3 separate regions of the Homo sapiens genome follow, and all the other regions are linked to region 3. The links come from fine-mapping of genetic effects on gene expression. A gene starts in region 3. Each other region holds a variant in brackets. All regions are shown on one strand. Distances are between the middles of the regions.

Region 1 (5,227 bases), 24 kb before region 3:
GTATATTTAGGCCCCTGGCTCTCAGGTAAGCTGTGTCCTCTCAACCAAGGTCACAGATCTTCTCAAGTCATCTTTTCTACGCAACTCTTCCTTTTGGGTTCCAGCAGCCATCTATCCTCCTTTTATCACTTTGGGCCTAATTTGATTACAGCTTCTCTGTTTCAAGACCTGACTTCACTATCCTTGAGGTTTCCCTACACCTCTCTTTTACCTTTGAAAATTGTCCTTTTATTAAACACTCTTTGAATTATCCTAATTTGAGCAAGTCATCTGTTTCCTTGACAACACTGATACAGATGAGAACATCAAAATGGTCCATTTTTGCATCTAAATAGTGCTCCTCAGATTTCCCAGTGTCTAGGGTCCTCACACTAAAGGGACAAGTGCCCAGAATTCCCACTACTACAGCCCAGCAACTCGGTATTCCCCACTCTGTCACTATTGTCCTCACACCATACTTTCTTCAACTATGTTTAAAACTGACCTATTCTGTATCCTTTTTCATGACTCTGTCTTCCAACATGACAACGAGTGAATTTCCTTATGGTTGCTAGTATGTCAATGGAAGAAAGTCGGCACAGTGTTTATCGGTCTTCTATAAACAAATTGCTTCTTTCTAGACAATGCCCACTGGTCCTCATAGTCTATATATTCCATTGCTGTCCTGTGGCCTATAATTAATCATACAGGGCTGATTCTCCTAAAAAGTACAGGCGCTGCTTCATTATTTCACTGCAGAAATTTTTTTTTTAAAGGTGACAAGTTTCAGGCTTTTGATATTTAAAAATTATTGCCAACTAGGATGTACAGCCATAGTTTGTCCTGGGGCTTGAATAAATGCAAACCCTCTTGCTAAGATTGGAACGCACAATCTCGGGAAGGACGCTGAGTGAGTGCACCTTGTCACCCTTTTCAGGCTTCGTCTTTCTCTGGCTTTTCAGGTCTCAAAACTCTTTTCTCAGAATACTCTGTGAATATTGATTTCACAAGGACTGGCTCACTCTAACCAAAGTATTAAGAAATTCACATGTAAAGTAGAATGCCAACTTACTCATTTATAATGAGACCTATTATATGGGAACTTGCTTGTGGGTGAATTACATATATTCTTTAAGTACATATATACTTTAAGTTACTTCAACCAGGCAATAAATGTATTATCAGTTAGCTGCAAGTAACAAAAACCAAAACAATAGATTAAACCATAAGAACATTTGTTAATAACATATTGTTTATTTACCAGGAAGAGAGCAGTCTCATTAATGTCATCAAGGAACTATATCCTTCAGCACATTTGCTTATGGCCTCTTGGTTGCAAGATGGCTGCCCCTCCAGGTATCAAGACGGCATTCAAAATTAGAAAACAAATAGCCGGTGCACGTATGTGTGTGCGTGCTTTCTTCGCATAAGGCTTTGTCTTTTTATCCAGTTAGCTTCTCAGAAGCCCCACTAGCCAGAACTGTGTCACATAGTCATTCCAATTGTCAGGGAGGCTGGGAAAGCAGGTATCAAACTCTCTGGCCACTATTCTATAGTGAAAGCCAGCATGGAATAAGAGATTTGGATCGCATGGCAGCTGTGGAGGTGTGCTGCGAAGATCTCCCTTTAAGAGAGAACTCACTGTTGCCTCTAGCTGCAGCATCTTCAACATATGCCATGTGTTTGAGCTGAGGCCCATCTCTTCCTGGGTAGCCCCCAGCCAATACCGTACAAGCTGGGAGTGCTCGGGTGTGGCCCTGTCTGCCCAGCATGGGACTCTTCTAATGGGGACTCTTTGTTCCAGAACTCCCTATTGCATAGGCAGAGATTTATGCAGATCCACACCATGGTCTGAAGCTCCCCTTGCCCAATTCTGCCTCTCTTTCTTTCCTTTCACAGGTGTCTAATCTGCATGGAGGTGTGAAGACTTTCATTGCCCAGTCCTGTTTCCTCTCCCTTCTGTCATGGCCATTAGCCCCCAATAAATTTATTGTACTCCTAATTCCATCTTAGCATCTGCTTCCTAGAGGAGCTGAACTGACAGCAAAGGGCAACATCAACATGTTAGTTACCTGTAACAAAGAAATCAGACATTACCCGTGCTAGGAGAATATAGGATCAGAAAGTCAGGTGCAGGCCTTCTGACTCTATATAGCATGAGTATTGTTTGATTACAAGCTTATGCTTGTAATCCCAGCGCAAACTGGCATTTAGGAGGCAGAGGTGAGAGGATCACTTGAAGCCAGAGTGTGAGACCATCCTGGGCAAAATAATGAGATCCTATCCCTGCAAAAAATTGCTAAAAAAGAAAAATTAGCCAGTCATAGTGGTGCTCCATGCCTGTAGTCCCAGCACTTGGGAGGCTGAGGCAGGAGGGTCACTTTAGCCCAGGAGGTCAGAGCTGCTGTGAACTGTGATTGTGCCACTGCACTCCAGCCTGGGCAACAGAGCAAGACCCTGTCTCAAAAAATAAAAACAAAACAAAACAGAAATATAGGATCAGAACAAGCTAGGGTACTCTAAGTAGTCCGGTCTCACCATAAGGGTGTTCCTAATTTGGTCTCTCTTCTCTCTTATTTCAGAAAGGACATCCAGGCCCCCAGCCTCACACTTGTGCACACTGGCAAAGTCGGTCTTGGATTCTCTGACTCGTTTTTCTGTTCCTGGTCAAATCATTCTCATTCTGTTGGCCTGCGCTTTCTTAGCCATGTTGATTCCACAGAGTACACTAGAACCAAGCCCTGTTTTTCCCACCTTGGGGCCCAGAAGACATTCTGTTCCCTTTTTTGGTCGGTTGTTTGCTTGTTTTGTTTTGCTTTAAGGAGAATTCTCCAAATATCTGCTTTGTTCCATTGTGTATTGACTTTATAATTCCAATTCTCAGAGTTCTAAAGAAGCATCACTGACACCCCTTTCCATTCTATACTGTCCTTTAAAATAGCATCCATTCTAGAGCATAATTTCCTGCGGGGAACCCTTCAGTAGCTTCATGTGTTTGTTAATTCCACCTTCATTTATTGAGCATCTACTCTGTGATGAGCTCTTTTCTAGGAGCTGGCCATAGCAACAATGAAGAAGAAGCTCACAGCTGGTTTTAAGTTAAGTAAAACTATTATTAAAAGGCAGAAGAGGGCTGGGTGCAGTGGCTCACACCTGTAATCCTAGCACTTTGGGAGGCCGAGGTGGGAGGATCATGAGGTCAGGAGTTCAAGACCAGCCTGGCCAACATGGTGAAACCCAGTCTCTAATAAAAATACAAAAAAAAAAAAA[T/AAT]TAGCTGGGCATCATGGAGCATGCCTGTAATCCCAGCTACTCAGGAGGCTGAGGCAGGAGAATTGCTTGAACTGGGACCTGGGAGGCAGAGGTTGCAGTGAGTCAAGATCGTGCTACTGCACTGCAGTCTGAGCTACAGAGCGAGACTCCACCTCAAAAAAAAAAAAAAAAGGCAGAAGACGCCAGGTGTGGTGGCTCACACTTATAATCCCAGCACTTTGGGAGGCCGAGGTGAGGGGATCACCTGAGGTCAGGAGTTCGAGACCAGCCAGACCAACATGGTGAAACCCTATCTCTGCTAAATCCCAGCTACTCTGGAGGCTGAGGCAGGAGAACTGCTTGAACCTGGGAGGCGGAGATTGCAGTGAGCCAAGATCATGCCATTGCACAACAGCCTGGGTAGCAAGAGTGAAACTCAATATAAAAAAAAAAAAAAGAAAAAAAGGCAGAAGAGATAGATTCAAGCCAAAAGAGGAGTTCTTCACTCATCAGACCCTTTCTCTAACCTAAATATTTTAAGCTTTCCATCCTCCAAGAGATGAAACTGCAGAGATTGTCAGAACAGCATAGACTCTCTACAGGCATGCACTGGATATTAAATATGGGTGTGGCTTATTGTCTGCCAATTTATGCTGCTTGTCACTGTCTGGTGCCACCCTCAGATCTCCACTACTGATAGCTGCCTGCCTAAGATGGCCTCTCTCACCAGAGCTTGAAAAATGATGGAGCTGCCCAAATGGTGGTTCTTTCTACACCTGCTATACTTGCAGCACATTCCCAGGTACATTTGCCTTACAGTCTTCATCCTTGTCTTGGTTTCAGAATATATTTGTGCTGAATGTTCTTATTCCCATTAATTAATGCCCATCATTCCATTTTGCCACCGTAATTATTTATATAATCATTATCAGTTCTGTCCTTCTAAAGTAAAAATTAACACAGCTCAAGACAGACTTGACTGGATCACAGTCTGGATTGTAATCTAAAACATTATACCTAGAAATAATGACAGCCCTCTAGTCTGGGAATTCAGTCTAGTCTGGTCTTTCCCAAAAGACAAGAGTCTTGGGTGCTTCGGCAAAGCTATAGTGGACCTCAGAAAGTCACCTAGGTCACCTAGCCCAAACTCCTCATTTCATAAAGAACAGAATGGGGGCCGGGCATAGTGGCTCAGCCTGTAATCCCAGCACTTTGGAAGGCCGAGGCGGGCAAATCACCTGAATTCGAGACCAGCCTGACCAACACGGCGAAACCCCGTCTCTACTAAAAATACAAACATTAGCCAGGCTTGGTGGTGCACACCTGTAATCCCAGCTACTCCGGAGGCTGAGGCATGAGAATCGCTTGAACCTGGTAGGTGGAGGTTGGAATGAGCTGAGATCGGGCCACTGCACTCCAGCCTGGGCAACAGAGCTAGACTCCATAAAAAAAAAGAAAGAAAGAAAGAAAGAAAAAACAACAAAATTAACTCCAGATCAGTTAAGTTACTTGCCTAGGTCAGACAGCTGTGGACAAATCTGGGACTAAAACCCGAAAGCCCTCCTCCTGCCCAGGCTCTTTCCAACAGCTGTCCTACACAGAACTCGCCTGGACTCACTGGCTCCCACAGCTAATCCTCCCTCCATGTTTTAATCCCCACTGTGTTCTCTTTCTTTCATCTCATGTCACCTGCAGCTTCCTTTCTTTCCCTCTTCCTTCTCCTTCCACAGGATTTTTTACATTCCTGTCAGTCCTGTGTTGCTCCCTGTATGCAGAGCCTATGTTTTTTCTCTTTGCTACTAGTTACTAGTAGCAAAACTAAAAGAAGAAAACTAGTATGCATGTCTATCTTTGTATCTTCTACATTCAGTGCTTTTAAAAAATGCTTAATGTTTATGGAAATTCTGAACTATATTTAAAATTATAATTCTACAAATATACTATAAAGTCTACTGGGAAAATAATACTACCCAATTCCCAATACTAAATGCTTAATACT
Region 2 (5,227 bases), 560 kb before region 3:
CTAAGGCTCATATCACTTGATTCTATGGTAGATTATATTAGAATTGAGGATGTGGCACATTAAAACTGGAACATGGGCAAATATAGTGTTCCATTTTAAAATTCTAAGTTTATATTGTTAAATGGGTGAAAATTTAAGTTTATATTTGCATTTCCAAGCGTTTCTAAAAATCACTAATGCCATCTATACTTTTAGTATGAAACAGCAGACTATAGAAAGCACAGGGAAGAATAGGCTAAATACATTCTTTGAAGAACCAGAGGCATATAACCACATCATTATGTCATTCCTAATACATGGCTAGATTTTCTAATGATAAAATTGACTGTGTCCCAATGCTTATTTGATTCTAAGCTTTTTTATTCTGTTTCTGAGATATTTTAATAGCTTTGCAAAATATGCTGACCAGTTTTTGGAAAATAATGGTTTTTATAGCAAGCAAAGACTTTATGGCACATTTTCAAAATAGCACTCATACATACTTACATTTTGACAGAAATGTGAATTCTCACATTGATGAGATATTCTTTTTCCCACCTGCCCTACCCTTTAAAAAAGGTCACTTTTCTAATGTGTAGTAGATTCATTTACGCCTTTCCCTTTGAGTCATACCATGTTTGGAGAACTGTGTGAATTGTAGGTAGAGAAATTAACTAGGGAAGCCAGAAGCTTGAACTAAAGTTTTAAATTTGTAGGCAGATGAGAACTTTTATACTATGGTTGCTTTGGGCGATTCTAATTTTGTAATAGCATCATGATCACCAAAATTAATTCAAACATTTTAGTACATCTTTAATCTGTCTTATTTACCAAAGTTCTAATCTGTTTAAGAACAGGATGCCAAGAGCATCTTTCATTTTATAGAATGATATGCTCACCTTTATAAGTGTCACCTAAAAGCTTGAGGGTAAAAAAGAAGCAGCCCATATATCTAAACTACAGGATGTCTTGAACAAGATTCACAGAAAGAAAGAAAAAAAAGCAGTTCTTTCCAGGAAGGTGGTAAGGAAGAGCATGCATATTTCTTGTTTTAACCAAATACCTTTTTTATGTAAATGTCTCTATTAAACCCCAGGTCCTACACCAGGAAATAGGGTGATAACCAGGAAAATACCAAGCTTTAACCCAGTTGGCAGTTCCTTGTGGCATACATTTGGTTAGACTTGGGTTTTTCCTGGAACCAAAGGAAAATAAGCATGTTGAGTTCTTCGTTCAACAGACATGACATTGAAGTAATAGAATATTTTTTAAGTAAAATAGTTTTCACTTTCAAAGCCTATGACATAAGGACATTTGTGCTTATTAATTGTTAATTTTTTTTTATGGTACATTGTATAAACTGAGTAGCATTGAACTGCATTTTAGAAGTATGTCATCAGAAACAAATCACATTATGGAAAGGATATACAAATGCCAAGTGATATGACTCTTTTGGCATGGTGGTAGCATGGTCCATTCAGCTTTCAGAATCTTTCGGAGGCTCTAGTTTGGTGCCTAGTACTAGTTATTTTTGTTAGAACAATCTCTCAAAATTTAGATAATTTTCCAGTTGTATGTCTGTCACTTTTAACTCTAAAGCGTAAGAATCATGGTAACCCTCTCAGAAGTGGTCCTTTCTTGCTCATTTCAGTTTCGTATTAACTTCAAATCACTGATGTATTGTCTTTCAAGCTATCAATTGTTATATGTACCAATTTAATTTAGTTTGTAGTTATCTGAAGTCACAAAATTGGTTCAGCATTGATGTCAAACAATGGCTTTGCTTCTTACCAAACAGACTTAGTATCCTGCTGCTTGTTTCAATCTTGATGCAGTAAGTGATGCAGTATCTGGGTCTGTATTTACTTAGAAACTGTACTGTCCTTTCTCTGTGCTTAACTTGCTAAAAATATATTCCCTTACCTGTGAAATTCCTGAGCGGTGCTCTGCCAACTTTTCAAGGGGAGGGATTTGGATGGCTGTGTTACTGCACACTGGATCTGGAATTGTTCAGGGTTATGAGTGACAAATTTCTTAAACACCAGCAGCACTGAGATGTGCACTATGGGCATTCGTACAGTTGTTGTCCAAATGCAAACAACTTTTTCATCTTGGAGAAGCTGAGATACAGAGTTCAATAGAACTACTTGGAATATTTTGAGAAGGTTGAATGTTTCATCTTTGGCTTTGTTGTCTCTGGAGTGGGGAAGTATGGAGGGCTTTTTTTTTTTTTTTTTTTTTTTTTTTTTTTTTTTTTAAAGAGAGTGTGTATGTACTTTTTCTCTCTATAAGGGCCAGGGTGTTGGTCAAATTCACCATCGATTAATTTATATCT[T/ATCTT]CTGTTGTGATTTTTTTCAACTATATAACAAGTGCCAACTAATTGTCCATGGGACAATCTACTTTTCCACTCAATTTATCGTTTTGAGTAGGGAAAGGTTCATTTATTTTCATTACCTGGCATTAAGTTAAAGAATTCATTATTTTGCATACATTTGAGTCATTCTGTGACCTATAAAGTGTTTTTGTAACTATCTAATTCTAATGGTTGCAAAGCAAAGCACATGACTGTAAAACCAAGCAAGGTGTTTTAGTAACTTTTTCCCTGAATACTTGGTAGTTTCCATTGATACTATTCCAAAACAAATTCTGCTGTTTTAGGTTGTATATTTACTTTGCTTTTGTTCTAAGAAAAAGCCAAGGACTAAATCAACTTGTTTTTGTGTTTCAGTAATCAGTTTAAAATCTAAGATTTTTTTTTAAATTAGACTATTTAATGAAGTGCCATGTAATTGTAGCTTGCTAGTGTTTAATGTTTAATAGACTGGTTCTGTAGGTGTTTTAACCATTTAACACTCTCTGCCATCCCTGGAGAAAGTGGTTCTACTCTTACTGAACACATTCTCTCTGACAAAATCACCAGCTGCTTTATTTTTCTATTTATTACAGTTAAACAGTTGATGAGGTCTGAATCTTGACCAAAACTGCTCAGCTGAGATGTTTTTCACAATAGACACTGTACAAAGTGTGCGTGCAAAAGGACACGGTTGGTAGTATTTTTTCATTAATGTGAACATTGACTAAAAAAAAGCAGTCCTGCCTTTTAAATCTTGTGGCAGCTCAGAAGGGAGGTGCTTAAGAACCTTAACTACTATGTCAGATAACAAAATATTTTTTTCCATTTTGGAGATTGGTTACTGCTCACACATGATGTATAGGGCTAAATATATGCTTGTTTCCTTGCACCTGTGTACTTCCCCTCTCTCCCTCCCTTTCCTTCCCCTGTAGGCAATAAATGGCCATTTTGCAACTGCATACCTTTGTCTTGGTTTTTGACTCTTTATTTGTGCAGTATAAACCTCTGCTTTTAGGTTGATACGTCTCTTCTAAAGTGAAGTAGGGAGCCAAGATAATTCAGGGCAAAATACATAATTACAAATTCATGCTACATTTTTTTTTCTGGTGAAAACTACATTACTAAGTACATTGTTTAAAAAAAATTCTGAAGCTAGTTATATGACTTGCTTTGCCCGAAGAAACCAGTGCAAAGGGATATATGTCACTTCTGAGTGGAACTTTAAGGGCCAGTCTTTAATTTGCCATATTTCCTTTTCTTGCCTGTGTGATCATAGAAGTATATGTTGAGATGAAACCTCTCATTCCAGATCCTTAAGTGACTTTGTTGAAGAGAACTCCCCTGCTGTCCTTTGGGCATGTAGCGTAATAAACAACTGCTAAATCTCAGTGTGTTAATACAATAAAGTTGTGTTATTAGGGCTTAATTTAGTTGATCCTGACTGACAGACAACCACCAGACAGATTTGCTGAGTTATCAATATTGAAGAAACTCAACAGCTGGACCTGCTAAGATCTCAAGTAAATTCATTCAACAAACATTCAGGTATCTTCTGTGAACAAGGTGCTGTGGGCATATTAAGATGAAAGACATCTTTATAATGCCTATCCTCCAAGAATTCATATTCCAAATACTCCTTATGACACAGAAGATATTCCAGTGTTTCAGTCAAAGTAAAGATATCTTAAATCATAGAATCTTGGAAAGAGAGAGAGAGAAGGCACATAGTGAAATAATTAGGAATTCTGCAAACTGTGCTTACAGATATTCAGCTGAAAAATGACTTTAAAATAAGGTGATAGAGAACAGATTATTTTTAGTGAAACAGAAAACAGCTGTGCGGCTTAGTAAGCGCTTGGAAAAGATAATGGTAGATTATTTTGGAACAGATTGTCAACATTGACAGTTCAGTGCCTATTGACTTGTTTTTACCAAGGATCCAGTGTGAGAAGGCTGTCACTGACCCTGAGGACCTTGTCTTCACAGAAGCCTTTGTGTTGGCCAGCCTTTAGGAAGTCCTCCAAAAGTGGAATCACTCTCATGTGAAGTGAATCTTGAAGTTGTCCAGATTTCAAGACACCTGCCTTGTTAAGAGACCTTTGTGATGAGGCATTGAAGACACTCACCAAGTGTCCTTTCATTTCACCATCTGGCCTTGGGCAAAATGTAGGCTCAATGGTAAAGTGGAGATGAACTAAATCTCACGAAATCGGTCTCCGAAAAGCAGAAACCAAGACAAGGGTTTGCATGGAGGTAGTTTCTTTGGGTAATTGATCTCAAGAATGAATGGAAGACAAAGAAGAATGAAATAGGGAAGGAGGGAAAGCCAAGTCAGGGATGCGTTACAGAGCTGATCACTTCTGTGGGCAACTGGGGAATAAACATGCCAAGGACCCTCTGTGGAGCTGAATAGAAGGCACCTGAAAATTATCTTCATGAGGAATGGGATGAGGCAAAGTTTACTCCATGGGTGTTAATTCCTTTTCCCATCCATGTTTGTGCCTGTATCAAATTCACTTAGCAAATTCCTGCAGGTGTCCCATATAGTGATAATGGAGAAATGGGATGAGGGGGTGGGTGGTGCAAAAAGCAAGAAATATTTGGTGTGGCTCAGGCAAAGTGTATCAAGTTACACCAGTGTGCATCTGGTTGCCAAGGTAATAGAATAAGGAAGTGAGCTGAGAGGTGTGAAGTGAACATAAGAGGGGTCCACTACAGTGTAACCACTTGTACCACCAAGTTCTGTTTGGGCCCAGGGTCAAGTTCATTTCATTGTAGCCTACGTTGTGGCAGGCTGTAATCTCAATAAAAAAATAGATGAGGAGTAGTGGGACAAAGAATATGGTCCCTTGCTGCAGCTGGTTCTGAGGCTGTGATTAATATTTATCTTCCCTATTC
Region 3 (5,227 bases):
TCTGATTATAAATTTTTATGTACAGTGGACGTTATTATACCCATTCGATAAATATTTCTTGAACCCTGTGTGCTAGGCACTGGGCATAGAAAAAGGAAGACATATTTATAAAAATGATGAAATACCTTCATAAGAGCCAAGAACCTGTCCAAAATATTGACAGCCAGGACAAAAGTTTCAGTGCAAGATCCAAAAAAGTTGGCTAAACTCCTTAAATCTTCAACTTTGGCATTTCTCAATCCTGGACACAAAGTGTTATCATTCTGCAATAAAAACCAAGAACCAAGGTTTACAATTTTCTTAGAACCAGATGAAAAACACATACAGGTCCAAAGAATAAGGTTAATTTTTTCCCAAGAATAAGGTTAATTTTTTTCCCTCAATCTTCAAGAATATAGGTGGAAAGAGTGGTATCGCTTAACTAAAGCTATACACTTTATCATCTGTAAGACGTAAATCACTGCTTCTTAAAAATACGCATCATAAAAGAGCTTCAGCAATTCAATATAAGGTGAACTGTTGCAAGATTTCAGAGAGTTATAGCAAATATAATTCAATTCCCTTGGAATGGAGAGAAAGGGTTCTTTTGTTTGCTTTTCTAAAGTCATTTAAGATTCTACTATAAATATGTATTTCACAGGCAGAGGGTGTTTGCACAAATGAACTACTCAATTCACCCGGGGTCTCCCATCCTGAAGCTGCAGGCTGGAGTATGGGGGGCAGCGAGGAGGGTGCCACATTAAAAACAACAACAAAAAACCCCACTTCTCTAAAGTATCACTCTCATTCTTGCTAAGAAACAAAAGCATTAACCTGTAATAAGGTTTATCTTGGTACTCCAGAAAGAACAACTTTTAAGAAATTTTGCAGGCTTTAGTCATGATTCAACGGGGGCGGGGGGGTTACCTCCTCCAAGCCCCATCAGCTGCTTGAGCAAGTTATCTTTTCTGCCAACTTACCTCCGGGGTAGCCTCAATCAAACTCAGCCCTTTTTCTCGAGGTTGGAATCTCTCTTCTTGTTCCAGGTAGACGTTCAACAACCCGAGAAGTTGGACCCCTTCATGACCTGCCAAGTGCTCTGCCCCCAAATCCTTCATCTGCAGTAAAGACACCACACAGAGAATGTAATCTGGGGGTAAGAGGGGTGGGGAAGCGGGAGAAAGGGCTGAGGCCAGTACCTCCAGCAAGGGTCGCCCCAGCACACCCCGACAAGGAGCGGGTGAAGGGACCAGTCACGTCCGCCAGAGCCCCAGGGCAATCCCCACCACGGCCAGGGAGGTGTGGCAGGGGGAGGAGCCGTGGTCAGGTCCGCCGGCCAGCGCTGGGTAAGACCGGCCAGCCCTGGCCTCTTGGCGTTTCACAAACAGGAAACTGTCCGCGGGCGCCGGCGTCCCCTCGGTCTGCCCCACCTGAAGTCGCGCCAGGGAGGGCCTTCTGCCCAGGGGACTGCAGTGTGGCGAGCGACTGCAGCGGGTCCCGGGGATGGGGTGTTGCACAATAGGGGGGAGGGGAGGGAGAGTCTCGCGACTGAACAAAGAAGCGGAGGGAGGAGACTCCCGAGCCCCGCCCGCCCGGGGCGCCCAGCTGCAGAAGCCCCTCTCGGAGAGTCCCGCCCCCAGCTTTTCCCGTCCGCTGCTGCAGCGCCGATTCCGGACTTACCCGAGAGGCGGATACCCCCGTCCCAGGAGCCCTGGGGTGGCGCGGCACACCCGGCTACGGTCCGGGGAGAGAAGTCCAGTCCAGCCCGCCCGCCCCGCGCCCGTAGGGACAACACCCGTCCACCCACTGATGCCGGGGCCCCACAACTCTGCAGAGCCCCGGGGCTGTCAATTCGAGAAGCACCACGCCAGCAAGTCCCCGTGACAACACGAGCGGGGGCGGGGGGCACCGAGGCGGAGACTGCCCTTAACCTAGTCGCAACCTCCTTCCACCCCACGAGCATCTATCTGTCCATCGCGGGCGCCAGCTCCCCCCGGGGCTGGGGCTGAGGGCAGCACCCTGGTCGCTCCAGCGGATGAGGAGCAGGCAGCACCGAGGCACTCGCATGGTACCAACCTCCTCAAAGCCCACAGTCCCCACCACGAACAAAGAAACCCACGGCGGCCCTGGGCGGGTCCACTCACCGTGCCGGAGACGCGCCTCCACCCGCCCGCGGCCTCGCGGTCCGCACGGACTGGGCGCAGCGGGGGCTTCCAAACCTGTCTCGCAGGTCGGGGACCCACCGCCTCAGCGGTGCCCCCGGTCCGGCATCCGACCCTTCCTCCCAGGCACCGCCGCCTCGGCCTCACAGCCCCGGCTCCATCCCGCTCCCCGCGCGCCCACCCTCCGCCGCGGCGCAACGCCGGCCGCGGAAGACCAGCCCACCGCCGCACCCCCGCCGCCTCAGCGGAAACCTCCCCGAGCCCCTTGTTTTTGTTAAGAGTTTCGACGCCCCCAAGGGGGCGGGGCACGTGACTCCCCGCGGAGGGATCCTGCACTTCCTCCACGGACTTTAAAAAAGAGTCCCGCCCCTAAGCTGCCGTCTCGAGCCTCTCTCGCGGCCTCCCTAGCTCTCCTTGGCTTTGCCGAGCCAGTCCTCCCGCCTGGCGCTAGGGCGGAGAGCGGAATCTGGGCGTCGGGCTTATTCCGCGATTGATCTGCGTTGGGGAACGGGGGAAGACAGAGGGGCGGAAGGAGATCGTTTCTGGTCTCATTACGCCTTTTAAAGGTCCCCGATTTGTTTTGTTTTCGCTGTTTTGAAAAGTCCGCCCAAAGTAGCCGGCTCTCTGATTGGATGCGGGTGGGGCGATGGGCATGCTGAGGACCTGATTCACCCTCGAATCTGGATTGGCTAACTTATCAGTCTTGGAGCCCTCTGATTGGCTTTCTCCGTAGCCTGAGCCTCTCTCTGCCTTGGGGCCTTAGCAACTCCAGGGTCTGGATTGCGCATGCCTGGGTGTGCAGCGGAGAAGGTATTCAGTTACCTGCCCTGCGGGGCTGTGCCTTCTCGCCTGGCTGCCTCCGCCTTTCTTGGGGGAATGTCACGCTCGCGGCGCTTCTCCTAACAGCTAACCTTTGTGACAGCCTTTTCAGCCACGGGAGAGTTTTCTACATTCCTTCTTTATTTTGTCTTGGCGTTCCATTTTGCAATAACCCACCAAATTATTATAACATTGTCGGGGCGTTTACTAAAATATTCAATAAATGCTACAAGTTTGGGTATTTGCTTTAAAATTTTACAGTCCAAGAGAAAAAAAAATGGAGAAGAGAGGTGAAATAAGATAGGCAAAAAGTTGAGGGTCGAAGCTGGGTGATGGGTACTCGAGGCTGCATTACAGTATTCTTTCTAGTTCTGTGTCTTGGAATTTTTCCATAATTTAAAAAAATTCAGGAGGGACTGAAGGAGGGGCTTTTCAATAAAAACTTAGCACGCTGATGAGGGTACGTAAACATCTAATAATTACGGCGTACCTCCAGAGGTTGTAGTGCTGTTGTTTTAATGAAGACTCCCAGAGCTTCTTGGTCCTTGGTAACCCATAAATTATCATTTATTGTTCATTATAATTAGCGTTGTTATTATAGGCGACACGTCTCCCAGGACGGGACAAAAAGCAAACAAACCAGGTGCCTTAGGCCAGAGACACTTTCACACGGAATATCAATGGGGCATGTGGTTGACTGCCCTGGAACATTTATTTGTTTACTCTCTCCCTCCTAAATTAGAAAATACCATATTCGTGAGTTCTAATCTACATAATCAGATAGTCCCTGGGAAGAGATTTCTCCTTTCTGTTCTTCTATGTGTTTTCTGTGAATTATTTTGTTACTTGTGAAATATGGGAAGGCACACAACATAGCTTTGGCAGCGCTCTTCTTTGCGGAGCAGCTAAGGAATTTTAAAACTAGGTCCCTTTGCATATTAGCTCGGACTAAACACAGGCATCTGTTTGGAGCACAGAGCAACTGGGGGAAGGCAGCCCAAAAAGCTAACACTTATTTCAGAGAGGTGTGAGCTTGGTGAGGGTTTTGGAAAATAAGATAAAATTAGCACACCAGTTTTAAATGATTTACAGGCTACATAATTTTATCCAATGCTTGTTTTATCTTTTAAACATTAAGTGATAACTTTTATTTGACATAATCATCTTGCTGGAAATCTATGCTGATAAACATAATAGGAGCATGAAACTAACTTAGAGACTAGAGCTAAGATTAAAATTACAGAGATGACAGCTCATTGTACAGAGCATCAATAGGCTGAGTGGACAGGGCCCACAGACAGAAAGCAGCTCGACCAACTATCCACCATCAGAGAAATGAAGAGTTTGTGATCAAAGCATGAAGGAGACTGGGGATGTTTTTTTCAAGTAAGAAGGCAAAGGTAAAAAAGGAACATACGTTATTTTATAAGTGATGTGAAAGAGGAAATGCAAATTTATGTGGTAGAAGACTTTAAAAATAACAGACTATATAAAACAAAAAGGAAAAGATTTAGAAATTGTCCTTTGCTTAGGCTACATAATTTTATCCAATGCTTATCTGATCTTTTAAACATAAATAAGTGATAACTTTTATTTGACATAATCATCTTGCTGCTTAGCACTAAATGATATGAAGCTATACTAAATGTGTACTCTATATTTCATAACTGGTATTTTATGTGTCCTTTTACAGACAGCCTCTTGAATGATGTGAACAGTGATGGCTTTCTCTGAGAGTAAGACAAGAAAGCTTTGTAAATGGCGTTGAATTTCCTGCTCTTGGCAGGCCCTGCTCAGCACAGAAGAAAAGACTGATCAAGTTGTCCAAGATGGAGCCCTTTATCCACGTTAGTCCACTTATCTCTTTAAGATTAAAGGAAAGCAATCATTAAAAATACAGATCCAGTAATTATTAATACAGCATCCTCTTTTTTAAACACCTCATTTTAAGAATGATGATATTCTTAGGAAATGGGCTGGGGGATTATGTAGGTTTTCTCTGTTTACTTTGCAGAATTTTTTGTTTGTTAATATATCTTTTAAAAAAAAATTCTCCTCATTCTATTTGTCCTTATCACATTGGCTTACCTTGCCGGAGCTGAAAGTGTTATTTATGAAAAAGACATTATTCCCCTTAGGCTAATCAGGCTTTACCCATTAGCCTTTCCTGAGCTTTCTGGAAGGCAAATTTCCTGTATCATGCACACATACAAAATAAGGAAATCAGAAACTTGGCAGCCCCCAAGAACTTCCAGACAATTTAAGAT

The links. PIP is the estimated chance that this variant, and not a neighbour inherited with it, causes the effect.
Region 1: its variant is the best candidate, but not a certain one, in a credible set for the expression of CCNG2 in whole blood (INTERVAL, PIP 0.51).
Region 2: its variant is the best candidate, but not a certain one, in a credible set for the expression of CCNG2 in whole blood (INTERVAL, PIP 0.58).

The regions. Positions count from the first base shown.
Region 1 is chr4:77,178,391-77,183,617 of GRCh38, reverse strand. It overlaps LOC107986292 (a long non-coding RNA gene), which reads right to left and starts at 4,585. Exons shown (of 4, transcript XR_001741742.1): 1 at 4,552-4,585. The variant T/AAT (reference allele first, on the strand shown) is at 3,250.
Region 2 is chr4:77,711,448-77,716,674 of GRCh38, reverse strand. It overlaps CNOT6L (CCR4-NOT transcription complex subunit 6 like), which reads left to right. Exons shown (of 12, transcript NM_144571.3): 12 at 1-3,288. Among named protein-coding and RNA genes, the nearest start is that of CNOT6L, 110 kb to the left of the region's middle. The variant T/ATCTT (reference allele first, on the strand shown) is at 2,315.
Region 3 is chr4:77,154,403-77,159,629 of GRCh38, reverse strand. CCNG2 (cyclin G2) reads right to left here and starts at 2,423. Exons shown (of 8, transcript NM_004354.3): 1 at 2,124-2,423; 2 at 960-1,097; 3 at 126-263. The coding sequence starts at 1,097. It overlaps LOC101928864 (a long non-coding RNA gene), which reads left to right and starts at 1,566. Exons shown (of 2, transcript XR_244659.5): 1 at 1,566-4,360; 2 at 4,654-4,876. RefSeq lists silencers at 2,115-2,224, 2,255-2,324, 2,745-2,864, 5,207-5,227.